Homo sapiens: one gene and its partner. The protein of the gene in region 1 purifies or fractionates together with the protein of each later gene. This does not show direct contact. Each region holds a gene or a part of one and is shown in the gene's direction. Other genes may lie near its edges.

The links. Proteins that work in one complex are often made in the same cells at the same time.
Region 2: the proteins of NBEAL1 (region 1) and DHCR24 purify together in Homo sapiens (co-immunoprecipitation; one large-scale study listed by IntAct). This does not show direct contact.

What each region holds. Positions count from the first base shown.
Region 1 is NC_000002.12:203,132,459-203,137,862, forward strand, and holds part of NBEAL1 (neurobeachin-like protein 1), read left to right. Parts: intron 1-599; coding exon 600-688; intron 689-3,218; coding exon 3,219-3,794; intron 3,795-4,140; coding exon 4,141-4,316; intron 4,317-5,404.
Region 2 is NC_000001.11:54,852,696-54,856,195, reverse strand, and holds part of DHCR24 (delta(24)-sterol reductase precursor), read left to right. Parts: intron 1-1,961; coding exon 1,962-2,159; intron 2,160-2,583; coding exon 2,584-2,762; intron 2,763-3,500. UniProt on the Homo sapiens protein: Catalyzes the reduction of the delta-24 double bond of sterol intermediates during cholesterol biosynthesis.

The sequences.
Region 1 (5,404 bases):
TATTCTTTGTTGTTTCTTTTGTTTGTTTTGTTCTGGTTTTTTGGTTTTTCTTTTTAGAAACAGAGTCTTGCTGTATTGACCAGGTTGGTGTGCAGTGGCTAGTGACAGGTGTGATCATAGCTCACTGTAGCCTCATACTGGATGCAAGGGATCCTCCTACCTCAGCCTTCCAAGTAGCTGGAACTACAGGCATGTTTCACCATGCCCTGCTTCTAATTTTTTTAAATAATTTTTTTCAGTACTTAATGACAGACAGTAGAATTTATGCCAGATGCTGGGAGTTTGGGGATATAAGATTCTTTGTCTTGATTAGTTTACAATCTTGTTGATAAGACATGTATATAAAAAGATAAATAATAATATAAGAGCCATGCAGTATGGACAGTACGTTCAAGCAATCAAAAGGAACAATTATTTAGGGTTGACTCAGGAGGATGTCAAACATTCTAAACCTATTTTTTCTTTAAAATTTGAACATACCTATAATTCATATTTTAAAATGAAATAATTATTTCAGCATTTTATACAAGTATTATCCACAGTTCTTTCTTTGGTTATCTCTGGTATTTAATTTTAACTTTTTGTTTTTCCTACCATAGATCCTGTTATTAATTTCAAAGATCTACTATCTGTGGTATATATATCTCACAGAGCACATATAAATGTTAGAGTGGCCATCTGCAGAAAGGTCAGTAAACTCTTAAGATATATTTTAATGATAGCAGCATCACCATCATGCTATAAATAACTTTGCATTATTTTGCAGCAGATACAAGTTTTCATTTATTTTATAAATGACGTAATTTTATAAGTAAACAATTTTCTTTTTGAAGTAAATTAACTTCATGTTATCATAAGAAATTAGCATGTGAATGTTTTCTTAGTTCTTCGTGGTCTCCTGCAAATATGTTCTTTCCAGAGTCAAAAATGTATTACCAGAGAATAATTTTCTTATTAAGAACCTTCAATGATTGTGACCATTTCTAATTAATATACCATATTATAGAGTTTCTGAATCTTTTGAAACTTTCTGGAAATAATTTTCTATAATTTGTTTAGGAGTATTCCAACAATGATTTGTCTTTAGTACACAGTTAACCTTTAACTAAGTCAAGAGATAGTTATCCTGTCTTCCCCTTTCAGATCATAACTTTCTCTGTCCTCCACTAGTAACCATTGACCTATTTAATTTGCTTCCTTGCTTTTCTTTTTTTTATTTTACCTCATGATTTTGTCACAGTTCTTGATATATATATATATATATGTGTGTGTGAGAATAAGAGATCTCTATATATAGAGTTTATATATATATACACATATATACACACACATATATAATTTATTTGTTTAACTGACAGAAAAGAAAAATATATATATTTGTTGTATAATATATATGTATAATTTCCTTTTCTCTTTAATGGAAATGCATAGTGTTTCATTGTATGGCTATTTAATAAAGTATTATCTGGTTCCTTATTGATAGACATTTAGGTTGTTTCCTGCTTTTCCATGTTATAAACTGCTGTTATGAATGTCTTTTTATGTTTTCCAATTTGTGGTAATACATCTGTAGGACATACTCCATGAAATAGAATTGCTGTTTCAAAGGGTATTAACGTTTTACATTTTGATGGATTTTTCCACATTGTCCTTCAAAATAACTGTACCAGTTTACATTTATACAAACAGTGTGTGTGACAGTGATTATTTCCCTATGTACTTAGCTCTGAGTATTTGGAGCAGGTCATATAAATTGATCCTTTCCTTTTCACGTATAATTAGAAACAGCTCTCAGTGCAGCTTGGTTTTATCTATTATTTATGTATAAAATAGATATAAAATAAGTCATATTTTATGGAAACTTTAAAGTCAGCATGAAAAGTTTCTTTGCCAAGTAAAGCTTAATCTGGAAGAAAAAAATTGTTATTCTGCACCTATAAAGTAACAGTTGCTCACTGATTGATATTGTATTAATAAAGAAAGAATCTTCACGTCATTGTGACTCCTTGCCTTCTGTATCAACATGTATTAGTACTAGTAATATTGAAGTCCTTACCAACATTGTTCATCTCTTGCTCTGAAAATTGTCAGAGCTAAAACTTCTGTTAAGAGAGATACTCAAAACCCTGGAAGCTAGAGTTCTTTTCATCTACATAGAAGTTTATTGACTTTGTGATAAAATTGTCTTAAAAGATCTTAACTGAATGTCTAAAGCTTTTTAAGAACTTGTTTTTATCTAAAAATTTTAATCAATTGGATAGTAGAGATCATACGTATTCTCATGTCACTGTTTACTATTCTAGCTAAGCAGTGGCATCCATCTTGCTGAAATTCATTTTCTGGAATTAAAGTTTAGTTTTTGTTCTGTTTGTATAATATAGACTTACTAAGCAATGTAGACTTTAGTGTAGACATACTGAACAAAAAAGTTTTTGCAAAAGCAACCATGGCTCATGCCTGTAATCCCAGCACTTTGGGAAGCCGAGGCAGGCAGATCACAGGAGGTCAGGAGTTCGAGACCAGCCTGGCCAACATGGTGAAACCCTGTCTGTACTAAAAATACAAAAATTAGCCAGGAGTGGTGCTGTGTGCCTGTAGTCCCAGCTACTCGGGAGGCTGAGGCAGGAGAGTTGCATGAACCTAGGAGCCGGAGGTTGTAGTGAGTCAAGATCGCACCACTGCACTGGTGCGACAGAGCAAGACCCTGTCTCAAAAAAAAAAAAAAAACTTAACTTTCCCTGAAAAAAACGAGACAGAAAAACATCCTTGGTATACTCAGTTTCTATCAAAATGTCTTATGTGTCCTATTCACTCCCCTAATGCTAGTGCCTAAAACTGTGCCTAGCACATAGTAGGTGTGCAATAATATTTCCTGAACAAATGTAGGGGGCTCATGGAAAGTATTTAGTTGAGAGGATATTACTCTATTATTTAACATATACCATCATCCTATTCATTTTAATTTTTCTTTTTTATCTTCCAGCAGATATTTTAGTGTACTCTTACTCTGTACAATGAGTAATATGGAGATTAGTTGGAAACACAGTGCCAGTCTTCCAAATAGTTTATAATCTAATTAAGAATATAATCTTTTGAAAGTATATTCTTCTATAGTTTCTCATTAAATTACCTTATCATTAAAATAACTGAAAATATTATTTTTGATATAAAGTACTATGTACTTTTTGAAGAATTTTGTATTCTAAATCTTTTTACAGGTTTTGCAAATTTTGCAGTTCCAGCCAGATGCAGCACATCAAATATCACAGCAAGTGGGTTGGCAAGACACCTTAGTTAGGCTTTTTTTAAAAGCAAAATTTGAAAACGGAAATACTCTTCATAAGCACAGTAGAGCTGTTTTAATGAAAGACAATGATAAAAATATGTCAACTGAAGATACCAAGAAGAACTCTGATGAAAAAACAGATGAGGAAAAAATCACCTCTTTTGCCTCAGCTAATGTGTCTTCGGATCAGTGGAGTTTGGAGGATAGACACTCTTTAGACTCAAACACACCATTATTTCCAGAAGATAGCTCTGTGGGAGAATTGTCTTTCAAATCAGAGAATCAAGAGGAATTCTGGCATAGTAACCCTTCACATTTGAGTTTAGACCTCAGTGGAATTGACTCATGTGAAATGAGTGATAGTGGAAGTCAAGTGCCAGACAGTCTGCCTAGCACACCATCCCCAGTAGAGTCTACTAAATCGTTTTCTGTGCACTCTGACAGAGAAAGCAGCATCACAAATGATATGGGCTTTAGTGATGACTTCTCTTTACTTGAAAGCCAAGAGGTAAAATTGCTTATTTTTCCAAATGTTGTTTTTATTTTCATGTCTGATATATACTTCTAATCCTTAGAAATATGTGAGCAGTTGTTAACAATTTCATATTGTATTCATGTTCTAAGTTTCATGATCTAAGGTTTAGAAACCTGGAAGTCACTAGATTGTGAGTTTTTTGAGAGCAAAGCTAATGTCTTACTCATCTTATGTCTCTAGGGCCTAGTAAAGTTCCAGGTTCATTAAGGACTTTAAAAATATGTTAAATGATTACAATGAGTATATGTAATGGTTCTTATGATGTGCTTTGAACAACTACACCCTCTAGTTATTTAAAATTACTTTATATTTTCCATAGAGATGTGAGGAGGAGCTTCTTCAATTACTGACACATATTTTGAATTATGTAATGTGTAAGGGACTAGAAAAGTCTGATGATGATACTTGGATTGAACGAGGACAAGTGTTTTCAGCACTAAGTAAACCAGGAATATCCAGTGAACTACTTCGACCATCAGATGAAATAAAACTAACGTAAGCATTTAGTTAGTGATTTTCCATCCTCCTTTTGGTGACAGCAGGAGTCTAAAATAACGTTAGTTATTGAACATTTATTCAGTATTCTGTGGATATAACAAGGGAGAAAAAGAGAAACTTTGTGCTCAGTTCCTTTTCCTATCTTTTGCCGTATTAGTAGGATCTAAAGAGGAATCCCAAACTCATTCCAGTATGAGGAGGTTTAAGTCTTAAGTAAATTTGGGTCATAAGTGATTACAGATTTTTTGTTTAAACTGTTTTCTTGCAGTATTTGAGGACTTGATACATTGTTTTCTACAGGCTTGTCCAAATTTGAGTGTTTCCGTGCTAAGAGAACGGAGTTGGGTTTTCATGATAATTATTTCTCTGAAGGATTTAGGGTTCCTTGTAGATCAAGTTTGTCCAACCCACAGGTTGCAGGCCACACATGCAGCCCAGGATGGCTTTGAATGTGGCCCAACACAAATTCATAAACTTTCTTAAAAAATTATGAGATTTTTTTGTGATTTTTTTAAGCTCATCAGCTATTGTTAAAACATATCGTTAAAATATCATTAGTGTATTTTATGTGTGGCCCAAGACAGTCCTTCTTCCAGTGTGGCTCAGGTAAGCCAAAAGATTGGACACCCCTGCTGTAGATAATAGGACTCTGTAATGGTAGTACACCGGGGAAGTATTACATCTTTTTTCCACAGGGCAAGACTCTCTGTAAGGCATAATAAGGCTTTCTTCCCTAACCTTGCCAATTTCCAGCTTTAAAGAAACTAATTTAAGTATCTCATGAAGGATGGAATATGAATTATTGTCATAGCTTTTTTATAGTCAAGTAAAACAGGAAACTTTTGACTTTTAATACTATGTATATTAAAGATAAATACTCCAAACATTTCAACGTTTCTCCATTGTTGTTAAATTCCATTTATAGGCCTGGCATGGTGGCTCATGCCTGTAATCCCAGCACTCTGGGAGGCTAAGGCAGGTGGATCACCTGAGGTCAGGAGTTCAAGACCAGCCTATCCAACATGGCAAAACCCCATCTCTACCAAAAATACAAAAATTAGCCGGGCATGGTGGTGCATGCCTGT
Region 2 (3,500 bases), on another chromosome or scaffold:
AGGAACACACAACCAGAGGGTGGGCCGAATTTGTGGACCCCTGCAGCACACATTAGACACCCACAACCGAAGGCAGTAGTGCCCTCTGTATTGATACAGGATACAGTGATGAGCCAGTGGTGCTAAGATGCCACCATTTATGAGGTTTTTTTGCTTTCTGTTTTTTCAAAGCTCCTCTGCTTCTCCGTATCAGATGTCCCCCAAAGGGTAGGCAAATCATTCTTACCAATGCTTGCCATTAGGGAGGGGGAGGAGAGTTGAGGGTGGGTGGGGAGCCAGGTCAGGTCATTGCTGGGAGGGAAACAGGGTCAGGAATGCGCAGGGAGGCTTAACTTTTGTACTATGGGGATTTCTGCTGTGGGCATGTGTAGGTCTTCCAAAGGTAACCAAGGAAACAATAAAAGCCAGGCTATTTATTGAGATCCTGTTGCATGCCAGACATTGGCAAAGGCGCAGGATCTAACAGAAGAAAACAGGCAGGTCCCTGACTTCATGGGAGTGGTCCGGCAGCTCCAGAGGAGTGAGGGAAAGGGTCACTCAGCCTTCAGTGCTTACACACATGGCTGCTTTGGGGAGTCACCGTGCCCCCTAGTCTGATGTGGACCCTTTCATGAGCTGCCCCAGCCTCTGTTTGTCCCCACTCTTCCCACACTCATCCAGTGGCCTGTGTCTTCCACACCTGCGGTTGTGGGTGTCTTAAGGACAGAGACCATGTCTCAGTTATCTTGGTTCCCCAGCACCCAGCATAGAACCTGGTTCCTGACCTCGGAGGCCCCTTGGAACTGTTTTTTTTTTTTTTTTGGAGACGGAGTCTCACTCTGTCGCCCACACTGGAGTGCAGTGGCACAATCTCGGCTCACTGCAAGCTCCGCCTCCTGGGTTCACGCCATTCTCCTGCCTCAGCCTCCTGAGTAGCTGGGACTACAGGCGCCCGCCACCATGCCCGGCTAATTTTTTGTATTTTTAGTAGAAACGGGGTTTCACCGTGTTAGCCAGGATAGTCTCGATCTCCTGACCTCATGATCCATCTGCCTCGGCCTCCCAAAGTGCTGGGATTACAGGCATGAGCCACCGTGCCTGGCCAGAACTGTTTAATGAATGGAGGAGCAGCCTTGGCTTCAAGGGCTCCCAGAGCTGTGAGAATCGGGCATCAGTGGACACTGGGGACCCTCAGGAACATGGTAGGACTCAAGCAGGGAGGAGGATTGTGACCCAGGGGCCAAAGTCTTCTCTGTTGGAGGTGGGCAGAGCTGGAGGGAAGAGGGGGCCATCGTCAGGAGGCAGCAGTGCTGAGTGAGGAAGCTCCCGCCTCGTGGCAGTCTGAGGCGTGGAAGAGAACAGCTTCTGCGCAGGAGGGTTTCCAGGGAGACCGAATTGGGGGAGCCAGGCGGGTGGTCAGGCTGTGAGCAAGGGATGCTGCAAACCAGTGGGCTCCTTGTCGAACCTGAGCCAGACTGCACCCACCCCATGAGCGCTGTCTCTGGCTGTGTGCCCCTAGGGAGACTGCTTAAATTCTCTAAGAATCACTATGCTCATTCAACAGCATTCGTTTCTCAAACATTTATGGAATGCCAGCTCTATTCCAGCCAGATCTCAACAGCTAGATCAGGAATGATAGCTAGCTCATTATTGCACTCCAGGCATGGGGTTGAGTGCCTTCCACTTGGTATTAATATCTCATTATCCTCACAAGGCCCATTTTACAGATAAGGAAACTGAGCTCAAAGAAGTTAAGTAACTAGCCCGGGGTCATCACTACTGGCGAATGCCAGAGCTGAGAAGCAAACCTAGATTGGACTGGTAAAGTCCTAGGTCCCATCACACCCCCTCCAAAGAGGGGAATTGGACTCAGGCGTGCTTCTGTCAAGCACAGAATGGGACCTGGCCCCTGGCCCCTTGCACTTGGAGACATTCAACCCTTGTTGGTTTTTTTCTCTCCAACCCTAATCTTTGTTTTCCAGGACATTATCCCCTTTGGCAACAACCCCATCTTCCGCTACCTCTTTGGCTGGATGGTGCCTCCCAAGATCTCCCTCCTGAAGCTGACCCAGGGTGAGACCCTGCGCAAGCTGTACGAGCAGCACCACGTGGTGCAGGACATGCTGGTGCCCATGAAGTGCCTGCAGCAGGCCCTGCACACCTTCCAAAACGACATCCACGTGAGTGGGGCAGGGCAGGGAGGGCGCACCAGGTGCATTCCCTTGGAATCCATGGTCTCCTCCCCTGAACCGTGTGACCGACCTTGGGCACACTGCCCTCTGGGTGTTTTCCCAACTTTAAGATGAGGTCCTTGTCCCTATGTCTGCTGAGGCCTCAACCCACTCAGTGATGGCCCCCCTGGGAGAGGAGTCATAGGGTCTGGCATCGAGCACTCCCATGACCTGCTCCGATTGTGTCCTCCAAGGTGGTGGAGTCAGGGTGTTCTCAGCCAGGGCTGGGGGGCGGGGCAGTGAAGCTGAGAGCACCTGAGGGGGTCTTGAGAATGCTGCAAAGCCTTCATTTGGGTGGGTATGAGCGGGCCAGCCATGAGCCTGTCACCTGTTGGAGAAAAAGCACCAATACCCACCTCCCTGGTCTACCCAGGTCTACCCCATCTGGCTGTGTCCGTTCATCCTGCCCAGCCAGCCAGGCCTAGTGCACCCCAAAGGAAATGAGGCAGAGCTCTACATCGACATTGGAGCATATGGGGAGCCGCGTGTGAAACACTTTGAAGCCAGGTCCTGCATGAGGCAGCTGGAGAAGTTTGTCCGCAGCGTGCATGGGTGAGTGGCCCAGAGTATAGTATGTTGCCTCTAGCTGACAGCCCCAGGGTACTGCTCCAGGGGAATGAGGCCAGCTCTATGGAGAACCAGGAGCCCCAAGCCTATCAACTGGTTCCTTAGGGCCCCTGCAGCTGTGGCAGCCTCTGGGTCAGGAGGTAAGCTGTGAAAGATGGGCAGGGGGTGGGCTTGCAGGACTACTTGCCCTCTTCTCCCTGCACCCCCTCCTCCAGTGAACATGTCACACCCCCCCAGCAGCCCCAGCCAGAAACCTGGGAGTCACCCCACTCCTCCCCACGGAACAGATGATGGGTGTGGGCTTAGCTGGGTCCAGGGGCAACTGCTCCAGATGGAAAGGCCAAAGCTAAGGAGAGAGGGATTCCTGTCTATGAAAACCACGGAGAGGCCCAGGACAGAGGATTGCTCAGAAAACAGCCTGGATAAACTATTGAGTGGAACATGGACAAAGCCAGGAAAAAACAATGCCATATGATTCCTTTCATATAAAATTCCCAAAAACACACATGAATCCATACTGATAGCGCATCAGTAGTTGCCTGGGGATGGCAGAGGGCAACGGATAACTAAGGGGCATGGGGAAAGTTTGGGGCTGATGGTTATAGCCACGATCTGGACTGCAGTGATTGGAGTCCTTGGTTGCATGCATGTGTCAAGCTTATCCAATTGTGTACTTTAAATTATGTCTAGTTTATTGAAAGTCAATAACAGATTAAAGGAAAA